Linked DNA regions of Homo sapiens: region 1 is linked to region 2. A link means that fine-mapping ties the variant in region 2 to the expression of a gene that starts in the linked region. Tissue or cell type: whole blood. Region 2 holds a variant in brackets; the other region holds the start of a gene. All regions are shown on one strand. Distances are between the middles of the regions.

Evidence for each region. PIP is the estimated chance that this variant, and not a neighbour inherited with it, causes the effect.
Region 1: it holds the start of DDT, and the variant in region 2 is fine-mapped to the expression of DDT in whole blood (TOPMed, PIP above 0.99).

Annotation. Positions count from the first base shown.
Region 1 is chr22:23,970,903-23,977,863 of GRCh38, forward strand. It overlaps DDT (D-dopachrome tautomerase), which reads right to left and starts at 3,539. Exons shown (of 3, transcript NM_001084392.3): 1 at 3,405-3,539; 2 at 2,866-3,041; 3 at 468-721. The coding sequence starts at 3,512. The coding sequence ends at 649. DDTL (D-dopachrome tautomerase like) reads left to right here. Exons shown (of 3, transcript NM_001084393.2): 3 at 384-1,654. The coding sequence ends at 504.
Region 2 is chr22:23,899,811-23,907,521 of GRCh38, forward strand. No RefSeq gene overlaps it. Among named protein-coding and RNA genes, the nearest start is that of MIF-AS1, 4.7 kb to the left of the region's middle. RefSeq lists an enhancer at 7,034-7,711. The variant C/T (reference allele first, on the strand shown) is at 4,398.

The DNA.
Region 1 (6,961 bases), 71 kb after region 2:
TCTTGCCAAAGGGAGGGAGTCGAAGCTTGCAACCCTGGGGAGGAGGAGGGGCAGACTGGGGACCCTGCTTCTGGAAAACCAGCGACCAACCCCCAAAGGGACACAGGCAACCCCTGCCTCCACTCTACAGTGGGGAAAAGGGGAGAGTGGCGTGGCAGGCTGCCCAGCCAGTCATGGAGGGAGTAGACTTCAGGAGGAGTACAGAGGTCTGGTCCCATTTTGGGGCTGAGGACAGGAGCCTCAGGTCAGCAGTCTGCAGGAAGGCCCCAGCTGGACCAGCTGCTCACACCTTCCCACAGGCCTGCAGATGGGTGTGGAGAGCAGAGCCTCCAGGCTGAGTCTCCCAGCCCCAGATCTGAGCAGTCTAAATCATCCCCCTCCAGGTTCCCTACGGTCTTATCCACCAGCCCTGCTGCCCATGGTGGCCCCAGATGCCCAGGAGAGATAATAGAAGGTAAGAAGTCATGTTTGAATGAGGAAGCTCTCTTCATTTATTTCATATGAGGATGAAGAAGAGGATTATGTGATCACAGGAATGTTGCATGCGGGATAATCCAAAGCTGGTTATCTCCAGGCCCTCACTCTGCCAAGAGATCTCTCTGGAAGAAGCAGCCAGTTCACAGATGCCCTGGATCCCTCCGTGCCCAATCATAAAAAAGTCATGACCGTCCCTATCTTGCCAATCTGCCAGGACTCCAAGGGGAAAAAGCGGATAAGTATCCTTCAGGAGACAGAGAAAAAGATATCATCAGCTCCTTGGCTAATACCACATCTTGCAAGACCCCTGCCAGGTACTCCCACTGTGGGTACTCAGGACAGCCTGCCTCAGTCCACCAGGCATTTTGCAAACCTGCTCATCCCAATAATGATTTTCCCCAACCCCCAGCAGGGCAGTGGGACACTCAGGTGTGGGAGGTAGCCGCACATCATGACCCAGCTAGGACAGACACACAATACAGTAGCCTCGGTGTGTGTGCCGTACACTCTATCATCTCCATCAGTTTGTGTACTGAGGGGTACCCTGCCTCCTAATTGCAGGCTCCCTAAGGGCACAGTACCTCAGCCACCTGTTTTCTCAAAGGCTGAGCACAGGGTGACCCCCCACCCCACCAACCCCGCCACTAATGTCTGGGCCATAAGTGAACATGCCCCTCTCAGAGGTAACAGCAAGTTTCCAGTGAGGAAAACCAGAACTTGGGACAGCCTGGTTGGGGCGGGCGGGAGTATGAACAGCCTGTCTTCTCATCATAAAATTGGCATAATGGAGATTATCTACCTCATGGGGATAGCATGTCTTGTCTGAGCAAAGGGAGAGTGGATAGGGATTGTAAGGATCAAATGGGATCATGAGTGTAAAGTACCTGTAGAGGACCTAGCACATGGTAAGTGTATAACACTTGTTGTTAGAGTAACAGTTTTCCCTGAGTATCCGTGGGAGATTTGTTCTAGAATCCCCAGAGGAAACCAGAATCTACATTTGCTCAAGTCCCTTACATAAAATGGTGTAATATTTGCATGTAACCTACACACATCCTCTCATATACTTTAAATAATCTCTGGGTTACTTATAATACCTAATATAATGTACGTACTATGTAAATAGTTGTATTGTTTAGGGAATAATGACAAGGAATAAAGTCTATACGTATTTTCAGTATAGATGCAATTATCAATTTTTTTTCCTCTAATATTTCAATCCATGGTTGTTTGAATCAACAGATGCGTAACCCAGTGATACAGGGGGCTGACTGTATTATTCCTCTGTAGCTTGAGGGAGGACCCAGCAGGATCAGCCATTCCTCATCGACCTTCATGGACTAACAAAGGCTCCATTTCAGAAGGTCTTTTTTTGTGAGCCAAGGTCTCACTGTCACACAGGATGGAGTGCAATGCGCAATCATAGCTCACTGCAGCCTCAACCTCCTGGGCTGAAACCATCCTCCCACTTCAGCCTGCCAACTAAGTGAGACTACATGTGCACACCACCATGTCCGGTTAATTTTTAAAACTGTTTTGGGGGATGGCATCTCACTATGTTACCCAGACTGGTCTACAACTCCTGGGTCAAATGAACCTCCCGCCTTGGTCTCCCAAAGTGCTGGGATTACAGGCATGAGCCACCGTGCCTGGACAGTGTCCTTTCAAGCTTCTCATGCCCTTACTTCCTCCTAGACATGGATGTGGCTCAAGAATATCTTTTACCCAAGAGGAAACTTTAACTCGGTCACAGAACGCCAGGTTTGGGTTGCAGACGCTTCTTGTGGGGGAGGGAGGTCTTTTCCCCTGTATTCACAGAAGAGGAGGTTGCCAACTGGAGATGGTTCATTTCCAAGTTTGTCTGGGGTCCCCCAGCTATGCAGGACCCAGAAAGCAGATGTCTAGACATCCAGGCCAATGGTCTTTCACTACTCTGTGAGTCTCCCGTGAACTTCACCTGGAACCTGGCTGGGACACAGGTCCAAAATACGTAACTTCAGAACATACCCAGAATTCCTTCTGACCAGCCTGGAAAAGTTCTAGAAAATCACACTTCAGCCACGTGTACCTACCCTGTCAGGTGCCAAGGCAGGTACAGCACACAGACAATCCCACATGACCCTTGCACTGCCCCGGGGGTGTTAAAAGAGAGCCTTCCCGGTTCACAGACTTACACACTGAGGAGCAGAGCCAGAAATTCATTCAATCCTGCTCGCACTTTGAAGATGGTCCTAACAGCAGGAACCTAAGGGGTCAGGGGGCCCCAAAGCTCCAGACCCTGATGTGTCCTTACTGGGCAGGGCAAGAAATGGGTTTTTCCCCCTGAGGCAGGATCAGTGGCTCCAGTCTGCGGCAGTCCCACATGGATCCCCTACTACCCCTACGCACCGGTCCTGGCCCAGGGCTAGCTCCTTGGTGAGAAACTCAAAGAAGTGGGCGCTGTGGCTGCGGTTGTCCTCGGCGGTGCCCACTACGCCGATGGAGGAGATGGACAGCTGCGCGCAGGGCTCGGTGGACCCGCTCAGCGCCATGGCCAGGCCCGGCCGTACCGTCACGTTCACGCGCTGAGGGGGACATGAAAAGTTTTGCCCGAAGTTGGAGCCGGCCGGGCTACCTCTGGGGACGGGACCCGAGCGCGCGAAAGCCGAAACGCGCAGTGTTCGCGGGGCAGGGATCCCGATACGGGCCGCGGTCCCTGAAGGTCACGCCCGGGTCATGACTGGGGAGGGCGACAAGGGAAAGACGTGCGGAGGGGGAGCCGCGGGATCGTGGAGCACGGAAAGTCAGAGCTTGGCGTGAGGAAAGGAGTGGGGAGTGGTCCCTGGGGAAAAGATTCGGGGTCACTGTCGGGGAGGCGGAGCAGGGACAGGGCCGGACCCCTGGCCCACCAACCTCCCCTCGCCCCGTGCTGCCCGGCCCACGCTTACGTCCGCAGGTTTGCCCAGGATGGAGGCAGCGGCGGCGCAGAGTCGTTTCTCCAGCCCCGCGGGCACTCGGTTGGCGGGCAAATTCGTGTCCAGCTCCAGGAACGGCATGGCGGGCAGAGGAACGGAAACAGCTCTGGCGGAAGAAAAGCTGGGGGTACCCAAGGCTCGCGGACCAGGGAGGAGGGGCGAGGCGCCACAGCAACCTGGCTTCTCATTGGCTGGACAGAGACTCGGCGCTCCCCGATTGGCTGCCTAGGGTACCTCCCGCTTCTGCAAACAAAAGTCACGTGTGCCGGCTGATTTCCGGAAGTCCCATCGTCTCCGCCCTACGTGTAGCCCCACCCACTACAGGTCTTTAACCCGGTAGTGGACCCACCCTGTCTCCCCCGACCCTCCTGCCTGGCGCCAGGTGGGTTTCCCTCTCAAGCTTCCGCGCTGTGGTCGCCCGGTTCCTAGCCCTATTAGAGGTCTGAACACCACACCCCCGACACACAAGGACACACACACACCTATAGGGGTCTTCCCCAGGCTCGACCCTAATAACCAATACAACGGGAGCTTAAAGTTTTTTTGAATGATTTGCCACCATTTCGAAGTCAGGCAATTTCATGTTCAGTATGGAAATCTGCGCTTGGGCAGTCAGGAGATGTGGTTACTCGCGGGGGCGCGGGTAGGGCTAGGCTCACGACAATACCTGTCCCTGCCTGGTCCCCATTGACATCTGCCTGTGTAGCCTCTTGTGCCGGTGGTGAGCCACTGTCCACCAGGGGGTGGCAAAATATGTTCTTTAAAACATGGAAAGGCCGGGCACGGTAGCTCACGCCTGTAATCCCAGCACTTTGCGAGGTCCAGGCGGGCGGATCACCTGAGGTCAGGAGTTTGAGACCAGCCTGGCCAACATGACGAAACCCCGTCTCTACTAAAGATACAAAAATTAGCCGGGCGTGGTGGCAGACGTTGTAATCCCAGCTGCTCGGGAGGCTGAGGCAGGAGAATCGCTTGAACCGGGGAGGTGGAGGTTGCAGTGAGCCGAGATCGCGCCATTGCACTCCAGCCTGGGTGACAGAGCGAGACTCCATCTCGAAAAAACATCAGAAAACATGGAACTCTGTTGGCGTGGCTTAAACATGAGTGTGGTCAGTGTGGCAAAATCACTTGAATTGTACATTACAAATATGACTGAAGTTGTGGTCGAGCAATGTGGCTCACACCTGTAATCTCAGCACTTTGGGAGGCTAAGAAGGGAGGATTGCTTGAGCCCAGGAGTTAAAGATCAGGCTAGGCAACATAGCAAGATTCTCTTCTTTATTTTCTACAAAAAAAAAAAAAAAAAGAAGAAATCTGGGTGCTGTGGTGTGTGCCTGTAGTCCTAGCTACCTGGGCGGCTGAGGCAGGAGGATTGCTTGAGCGCAGGAGATCTAGGCTGCAGGGAGCTATGACTGTGCCACTGCACTCCACCCTAGATGACAGAGTGAGACCCAGGCTCCCCCCTCCCCCACAAAAAAGAAAGAAAAAATTTGCAAGTTTATATGTACAATTTCAACTACGTGTATAAAATTCTCTATAAGTGTGCATACTTAAAGGAGCCTCCACTGAAAGGCCGACAGAGTCTCTGTCTGTCATGATCTTGTCCTATTAGCAGTTTGTTTATTAGATGACTCAGATATCAGAAGGTCTGAGACACACGACAGGTAAATATGACAGTCCTAAGGGGAGAGGGCAGGGACAGGTGGCAAGTCTGGGACCAGGTGTGGGGCATGGACAAGCCAGTGGTCCGGGAGTGGGGTGTAGAGAAGACTGTGGTCAAGGTTATGAGGAGGCATGGGAGAGGGCCAGGAAATAACCAGGGACTTCCCTTCCTGCAAGGAGGTTCATGAACCAGCCCTGCACCCCACTTGTGGAACACAACATCGCCCCACAGTGAGGAGAGAGACCGAGGAGACCAAGGCTGATCCTGATTCAGACATCTTTCCACCAGGTCACCCCTCATCGATGATACATGCTCAGTCCGGGGGTATCCCCCGCAAGGAAACACTGGGGCTGAGGAGCCCAGAGAGGTCGCCTGACCTGGACTGGGGCTGGGGAGGTCAGGGAAGTCTCCCTGGAGAAGAGACAGGGTGCCAAATGCCAAAAGACCAGGAAGGGCACCAGGCGAAGATGAGGAGGGAACAGCATGAGCGGAGGCCAAGAGGCCAAGGTGGGAGCCCAGAGAGGGGTTAGGAGTGTGCAGGCAGAAGGGGCCACCTGGAGGAGTGGGAGCAAGGCCTTGAATGCAAAGTTCAATGACTTGTACTTTAGCTTCTGGGCAGTGAGGAACCATACAAAGTTCCACACAGAAGGTCAGGGTCAAGTAAGCGTTTGCCCAAGCTCTTTTCAGAGGTCACATGGAAGCTAGAATGGAATGGGGTAGGAGACAAAAGGAATGCAGGCATGATATCTGGAGGAACTGTGGACCAGAGCCTTTGCAGATATGTCTTCTCTTCAACCAAGGAGACGGACAGCTCCATGTCTTTATTCTACCAACACAGCATCCCCTCAGTGGCTCAGCAAGTGTGGGACACGCACTCACAGCAAGAAAAGCTGCATTAAGGTCTTCAGATTCTCTTTAACAGCAGGTTCTACTGGAGGCAGGTCCTTGGCCTTCAGGACAGCTGGGAGGGCCTCCTGGAAGAAGTCCTCCCGCACTGCAGCCTCCACGTGTTGGGCACCATGCTGCCACCGTGGGTCTGCTTTCAAAGACTCAGCAGCCAGCACTGATGGGCTAGGGGAAGACAGAGTCAGCGGAGGGGCTGGGCATAGCCAAGTGTAAGGCAGCATGACCTGCTTTAGGGGTTCTCTGATTGGATTTTCCCTCCTCCACCATGTGTGTGATGGGCTAGGATGTCCCCCTCCCTGGGGACACTTGGAAGCCTCTTAATATAGCTGCGGTGAGGGGTTTGTAAAGCCCCATTTTATAGATGAGGACACTGAGGCTCAGAAGGAGAAGTGACTCACACAGGGTCCCACAGCCAGAAAAGACAACATGAGCTGGGATGTCAGCTCCCTTCCCGGATACACCACTGCCCAGCGGGCCACCGCACCCCATGGCACTCTCATGCCTCAGCTCCGTGATTGCCACCAAGCCAGCCACAGAGATACGGGGCCCAGTAAGGAAGGCCTGGTCCCGCAGGAACTTGTCCTCGAGCAGCTGCAGGCATCCGTCCAGCTCAGCCAAAGTGGCCGCCAACATCTCGGGTGGCACTGACTCGCCCAGGAACACAGGGATTATTATCTGGTGGGCCGACAGGCAGAGAGAGGGGTCAGGGTCTGCCCAAAGCCCATCCTGGTTCCCACCATCATCCTATCATCACCAGTCCTTGGGATTTCTGCTCACCTCTGCTCACTTCTTTCCACTCATAGCCACCAGTAGCTCTCATCTCCTACTCAAACAGGGACAGCCTCCCCCTTCTCCCTGGGTCCTCACACAAGGCAACCAGTGGGATCCTTCTGTAATCTCAATCTGCCCGTACCCTCTCTTGCATAAAGCCTTCCATGGCTCCCCACTGCCCTCATGAGAA
Region 2 (7,711 bases):
CAAAGTATATTTAGAATACATGCGATGAGTATTGATGCAGAAATGGACATTTCTCAGAATAAGATATGACTTTACAGATACCATACAGAGAATATGATTTCATGCAGATGGAGAAGATGTGGTGGGAGTTGTGGGAGAGCAATAGAAAATACATTTCCTGGCTGGGTGCAGTAGCTCACATCTGTAATCCCAGCACTTTGGGATGCCAAGGCCAGGAGTTCAAGACCAGCCTGAGCAACGTGGTGAGACCCTGGTCTATATAAAATATATTTTTAAAAAGTTTCCTGTACCTAGAAACAAATCCAAGATGTACTCTACAGAGAACCTCTACAGAGAAAACTAACACCCTGAACGTTATTGGAGAACTAAATAAATGAAGAGACTGACCATGTCTCTGTGTTGGGAACAGGCCCCCCAAAATCTGGCCATAAACTGGCCCCAAAACCGGCCATAAACAATATCTCTGCAGCACTGTGACATGTTCATGATGGCCATAACACCCATGCTGGAAGGTTGTCGGTTTACCAGAATGAGGGCAAGGAACACCTGGCCCACCCAGGGCGGAAAACTGCTTAAAGGCATTCTTAAACTACAAACAATAGCATGAGTGATCTGTGCCTTAAGGACATGTTCCTGCTGCAGATAACTAGCCCAACCCATCCCTTTATTTTAGCCCATCCCTTTGTTTCCCATAAGGTATACTTTTAGTTAATCTAATATCTATCAATGCTAATGACTGGCTTGCTGTTAATAAATACGTGGGTAAATCTCTGTTTGGGGCTCTCAGCTCTGAAGGCTGTGAGACCCCTGATTTCCCACTTCACACCTCTATATTTCTGTGTGTGTGTCTTTAATTCCTCTAGCGCCGCTGGGTTAGGGTCTCCCCGATCGAGTTGGTCTCAGCATCTCTGTACTGGAGGCAATATTGTGCTCGTAACAGTTCTGTCTGGTTGATGATTCAGCACAGTCCCAATCAAAATTCTAACAGATTTTTCTATGGGAATTGACAACCTAATTCTAACATTTATATGAGACTCTAAATGACCAAGAAGAGTCAAAACATTTTCTTGTAGAAGGCAAGGTGTGAGGATTTGCTTTTTCAATGTTAAGACACATGATCAAGCTACACAATTAAGGCAAAGTGGAATCAGAACATGGCAGACAACAGACCAATGGAAAAAAGAGCAATCCAGAAACAGACCTCTCCACACACATGGACACAATATCAGACTGGGGGAGCATTGAAATCCACATGAAAAGAAGAACTCATTCAACTAGGGGTGCTGGGCAGCTGGCTACCATGTAAGGAGAAACATCAAACTGGGCTCCTATTTAACTCCCACACAAAAGTCAGTTCTACATAGATTACAGCCATAAAGAAAAGGCCACAAAGATCTTAAAAGATGGTGTAGAAGAATATCATCTTTATGATTTAAGTAAGATAAAATGAGTACATACAATAAGGAAAGATTGACACACTATTAGTGAGACACCGTAAGAATGAAAGACATGCTACAATTTCTGCAACTTATCTTAATGCAAGTGAGCCCCAAAACTGGGGCTCAGCCTGAGAGCGTTCTTGGCTTTGCACAGGAAATAATTTGAGAGTGACCCAACAGAAAAGAGTGAAAGCAAAGCAAGTTTATTAGAGCAACAGAGTACAGAAAAGTGGGTTTCATAGAGCATCCATACAGGTGGATGGGGTTTACAGGGCTACCCCATAGGCAGAGCAGCACTCCTGGACTACCAGCTATCTATATGTATAGCTACTTCTTATTATATGCTAAATAAGGGGCAGGTTATTCATGAATTTTCTAGCAAAGGGATCCGGAGTTCCTGGAACTGAGGGTTCCTCCCCCTTTTAAATCACATAAGATAACTTTTGGGTATTGCCGTGGCATGTGTAAACTGTCATGGTGCTGGTGGGAATGTCTTTTAGCATGCATTATCACTAGCATATAATGAGCAGTGAGGGACAAAAGTGAGGTCACTTTTGTTGCCATCTTGGTTCCAGCTGGTTTCAGCTGATTTCTTCACTGCATCCTGTTCCGACCAGATTCTGTTTTGATCAGCGGGATCATGACCAAGGTCTTGACCAGTGCTTGGAAAACAAGTTCTGCTGATCTCCTATCTCAACATTACATTATTAGGAAACCCTATTTAAAAAAATGAGCAAAGGACTTTAGAAGCCACTTCACAAAACAGAATATCCAATGGAAAAGTTGTTCATCGTCAGTAGAAATCAGGGAAATAAGAACCACCATGACACACCACTACTAACCTCCTCAGCTGTAACGTGCCCACAATCCCACTCCTCGATATATTTATCCCGGAGAAACTTGTATCTCGAAGCAACCCAATGTCCATCAATAATTGGATAAATTATGCTTGTTCATTCATGGAATATTCAACAGCAGTGAAATGAACAAGCTATAGGTACAAATATCACCACGGTCAAATCTCATAAACATATTGAGCAAAAGCCACAAGATATATATATATAATGCAGTTCCATTTATATAAAGTTTGAAAACAAGGACCCCCAAACTGTACTGTTCAGAGGACCACGTGTAGGTGGGAAAATTGTGATGAAAGCCAAGAAATGATTTCTATCACTGTCAGGACAGCGGTCCCACTGGCCAGGGGCATTTGGGAGGTGGCAGGGTGCTGCAGTATTTTTCTCTCTGTTCTTACAAGTGCCTATATATATTTATTAAACCTTATGCATTTATGCATTTTTCCATATCTCATACTCCCTGATACAAAAGTTAACATGCACAGTAGAAGGGAGTGAAGAGGAAGTGAAGAGCACCACCACCAGGCCGACCGTTGGGTACCGTGCCATGCAGAAGCACTGCCCAACTGCCCCATCCCACTAAGACCTTGCCAGACACTGGCCCATACGGAGGGCTGTTCCCACTTTGTTGGCCTCTTCCCCAGCCCACCCCCAGCCTCCCTGAGCTTCCCACCACAGTGTTTCTGCTGGGAGTGGGGGCCGTTCTTCCTCACCTCCTTGTTTCCCCATGAGGTGCTTATGTCCCTAAACAAGCACCTCCTTAGCGCCCCCCGTCTAGCTCAGTCTTTCTGGGCCCTGCTTTGCTGTGTGCTCCCTGCCTTCTGGCATGTGCTATGACCCTCACAACTGTGGTGGAGGCCCCAGGATTGGAATGGGAAGAAAGGCGTGTTCTATTTAAGCCCCCTTAAATCCAGCAGAGGCTTTGAGCTTTGAGTCCTCAAGTAACCACATAAAGTCTGAGGCTTTGGGGATGCCTGGTGTGTGCGCGGGGGCTTCACAGGGACCACACTGGCTTCTGGCCTTGGCAGTTCCCCACAGAGCTTTGGAGCCACGAGCTGATCCTTACAGTCTTAGGGTTGGCTTTTAACTAGTGGCCCAGGCCGGAGGTTCCATCTTGCTGGTATAAAGTAAGGTCCATGTGGGGATATGACCTTTGGCAACTCAGGGCAGTGCTTTGGGGATGGTCACAGCTCAGAGCCGTGTTCTCTGACTCCTGCACGGGCCTCCTATTAATCCAAAGAGAGACAGTGCAGAGGAGGCTACAGAAGGGTCCCAACCTCTGAGGCATGAATGGAGGAGGGCAGGCCCAGGCTTGCTGCCTTTACTGTGTTCTCAGCCAGGTCTGAGATCACCACTTCCAACTGCGAAGGCAGCAAGGGGCCGGTGCAACCTGGTATGAGTCTTGTACCACCCACAGTGGAGTTGTGCCAGATGAGCTGTCCTCAAAGCCTCCTGCCAGAACAGGGACTGGGGAGGGTCCCTCCTGAGCCCACGAAACACATCCCTAGGTCTGCTGAGTTAGTCCCCTTGTGCGGCTCAGCTTGGCTCTCGATTTGTGCCTTACATACATTTTGTTTTAATTTGTTGTTTCTTTTTAGAGACAGGGTCTCTCCCTGTTGCCCATGCTGCAATGCAGTGGTGCAATCAAGCTCACAGTAACCTTGAACTCCTGGGATTAAGCCATCTTCCCGCCACAGCTTCTTGAGTGGCTGAGACTACAGTTTTGTGCCACCATGCCCAGCTAATTATATTTTTATTTTTGTAGAGACAGGATTTCACTAGGTTCCCCAGGCTGGCCCTAAGTGATCTTCCCGCCTTGGCATCCCAGAATATTACAGGGATCACAGGTATGAGCCACCGTGCCTGGCTATTACGTACATTTTGACCCAGGAATTGGGAGACTAAAGTCGTGGCTTTGCCCACAGAAAGGTAAGAGTTTGTTAATGGACAACAGCATTAAAAGGAATCAGGGCCCTTCAGAGAATATGCTATTTTCTTGGGTTGAGATAGAGAAACAATGAAATCAATACGCATCCAAAGCTAGCAAGGGCCATACAAATGGCTTGTGCTGAGAACCGTCTGTCCCAGGGAATTGGGTTTA[C/T]TTGGGAGATCCAGAAGGAACTGGAATGGTTTGAAAAACACACCACAGTCTTACCCTTAGAATGGGAGCAGTGGTGTCAGGAGGCAGGCTGTGCAGAGATGAGGGATCATGGGACCCTGGAGTGGGCCAGACCAACTTAGGGGACAGGAAAGCTCCCTGATGTGAGGGGAGGGCAGACGTTGGGAACAGACAAGGTCACCACCAGGGAACCAGGTGACCCAGAACACTCTTGAGGGGGGGCCATTCAATGCTGCAGACAGCAACTCCGTAAGAATCAGAAGCCATTCCATGAGCCAGGGCAGCCCTCAGAGGCTGTAGGGAATTTGGGCAAATTAAAGGACAGAAGATCAGCATCAAACATTGAAAATATTTTAGGTATACCTGGGGACAGCATAGTTACTGTGGGTGGGTGTCTGGGGTTGCTCAGGACCTAAGGGAATGCATTTTTTAAATGTAGGGATTAGGTGTCAAGGAGGGCTCAGTGGAGTCCTCCCTGAGGAGAGCACAGCCAGTCAGGAGAGAGGGGCTGACGGCAGGGAGGCTGATGGCCATGGCCGCCATCTCTTGGGCGCAGCTGTGGGACTGTTTCAACAGCAATTCTTGTGGCAAACCTGGGATTGCCTGGTTTTGTTTTCTGTTGCCAGGGGAGACCCCCAAGTGACAAAATCTAGAGGAACAGATCAGAAAAAGTAAATATATGGGCCGGAAAGCAAAGAGAAAGTAAAAGGAGGGAAGGCACTGGGGTTGAACACAAATGACCAGCCCTGTGTGTGAAGACTGCCAGCAGCCAGCACAACTGCCAGGGCCCCAGCTGAGCCATGCTGGGGATGCAAGCCAGCAGTCGCATGAGGAAGCACAGCTGTGGACATCTGTCCCCAACTGCTGACAACTGTGCTGCAGAAACAGTGCTGCTCAAGACTGGGAACATCCCCAGTGGAGGACAGCTAGTGTCCTGAGAGCCAGTGGGACACAGCCACTGCTCCCTGGTGCTCAGCTCAGCAACCTGCTGGGCTGTGCTGCACTGACTGGGGCAGGATCTCTTAGGACTGAAGACATCCATGCAATGGGCATACAGAGGGAAATGGAAATGATGAGATTTCACACATATGAAAAGGAGAAGGTATTATAAATAAGACCCAGGCAGGTGATGACTGCTTGTACAGATACGCTCAGGGAGGAGGACAGCAGAAATTGCTTCCTGCTCCACCCCAGCGGGGTCGCCAGGGCTAATGCTAACCCTCCACCTGGTTAGATATGCTGTGGGGTCTAGGGTTTGTCTTCCCTGTCTACTCTCTTTCCATCAGCTGCCAGGGCATTCCTGCTGGAGTACTGAGGTAGCAGGAAGAGAGGGCTACATGGGGCTGGGTCCGGGATCCTGGAGACATCTCATGGCCTGCATGCTGCTCTAAGGACTTCCCTGTGGTTGGCGAGCAGGAGGCTGAGGCTATCACCATCTGCTCATTCCTAGTAACTCTGGGTCTTTTAAAACTGGAGCACATGGCAGGCTAGTGAAAATGCTGAGATGTGGAGAGAAGGATCTCACTTTCCAGGACACCCAGCCCTCCCGTGCCTACTGGGCCACTTTGCTCACTGGGTGAGCACAGAGCCTCGGGGAGGAGGTTAACACCACTGGGCTCTGACGGATCCCTGGGCTCTCTTTGATTGCTTTGGGCTTGAATCCTTTGACCTTAAGACTTTTTTTTCCCTTTGGACTTTAACCTAAAAGGACAAGGGAACTTAATTTTTTGACTTGAATTTGACCCTAGGAAATTTATGAAAGACATTTCTAGGTTGACTTTTTATCTGGGTATCTGGCATCTTATATATCTGCAGAACCTCTGACTCAAATTTGAACTTTGAGGTTGGACCTAATTTAGGATGGGAAAGTAGGAAGAGTAGTAAAAGAATGTGTCGTCTGGAGTCCAGGCTACCCTTGGAATTAAATAGCATTGAATGATGACCCATTCCAAGTCCTGGGTGGGGGGAATCTATGCTGCCCCGAGGTCTCCAAGGGGGAGTGGATAACACAGGGGCAACTGGGCTTAGCAAGTAGCAGCAATATCGCTGACCCCTGAGTTCAGGAGCAGGGGGCAGTTTCAACTCGGCTCCTTGGGTCTTCCCTTGGGATTTGGCCACTTTGCCATGTGGGTGTCCAGCAGTGCCCTCTAATCTGGGGTGAAGCAGAGCAGCCTGCCCAACTTGTGAAGGTCTCTCTCCACCACCCCAGACCCCTAGGAACTCCCAACTGACTGCTGATATCAGACCTCCTGCCTCTGTCTGGGCCCTAAGGAAGTGGTGTCCTATGTGGTCCCCACCCTACTCTGGGACTCCTCCCTCCTTTTTATCCCCAATGCTACAGTCAGCCTTGGTATCACTCCCGATTTCCACAGGCCTGTCCCAGAACCCCTTACACCTGTTTTCTCTTCTGGAAGTGAACCCTGAGCTAACATTTTAGGTAATTTTTTTTAAGGACCCACTCTGTCCATATTGCAAGAGGCAGAATATGTTCTGATAGCGGAGGCCATGGGGAGCGGGAGAGGGAAGAGGAGAGCTTACAACAGATATCACCCACTGTCCATGCTGTGAGCCTGCGGTCCCCTGCTGCTGGGGCCTCTGCAGGGAGTTGGTGAGCCTGATCCCTGGACCTAGAGACTGAAGTGAGGCTTTGCAGTCCCTCGCTGAGTGAGACCCCTTGCTGATCCCTGCCTGGTGGGCTCCCAAGGCCCCCCTGTTGCAGCCCCTGCTGAGCATCCTCCTGCATGCACTTTCCAACCTTGGGGGACCCTTCTCCTGGTCCCCCCAGCCTTAGCTGGTTCTCTTCCCTGAAGGCCCCCGGAGGCGTAGGCTGGGCTACCCCAGCAGCGGGGGCCTGGCTATGTGGGGAAAAGAAAAAGAGATCAGATTGTCACTGTGTCTGTGTAGAAAGAAGTAGACATAGGAGGCTCCATTTTGTTCTGTACTAAGAAAAATTCTTCTGCCTTGAGATGCTGTTAATCTATGATCTTACCCCCAGCCCCGTGCTCTCTGAAACATGTGCTGTGTCCACTCAGGGTTAAATGGATTAAGGGCTGTGCAGGATGTGCTTTGTTAAACAGATGCTTGAAGGCAGCATGCTCGTTAAGCGTCATCACCACTCCCTAATCTCAAGTACCCAGGGACACAAACACTGCGGAAGGCCGCAGGGACCTCTTCCTAAGAAAGCCAGGTATTGTCCAAGGTTTATCCCCATGTGATAGTCTGAAATATGGCCTCATGGGAAGGGAAAGACCTGACCGTACCCCAGCCCGACACCCGTAAAGGGTCCGTGCTGAGGA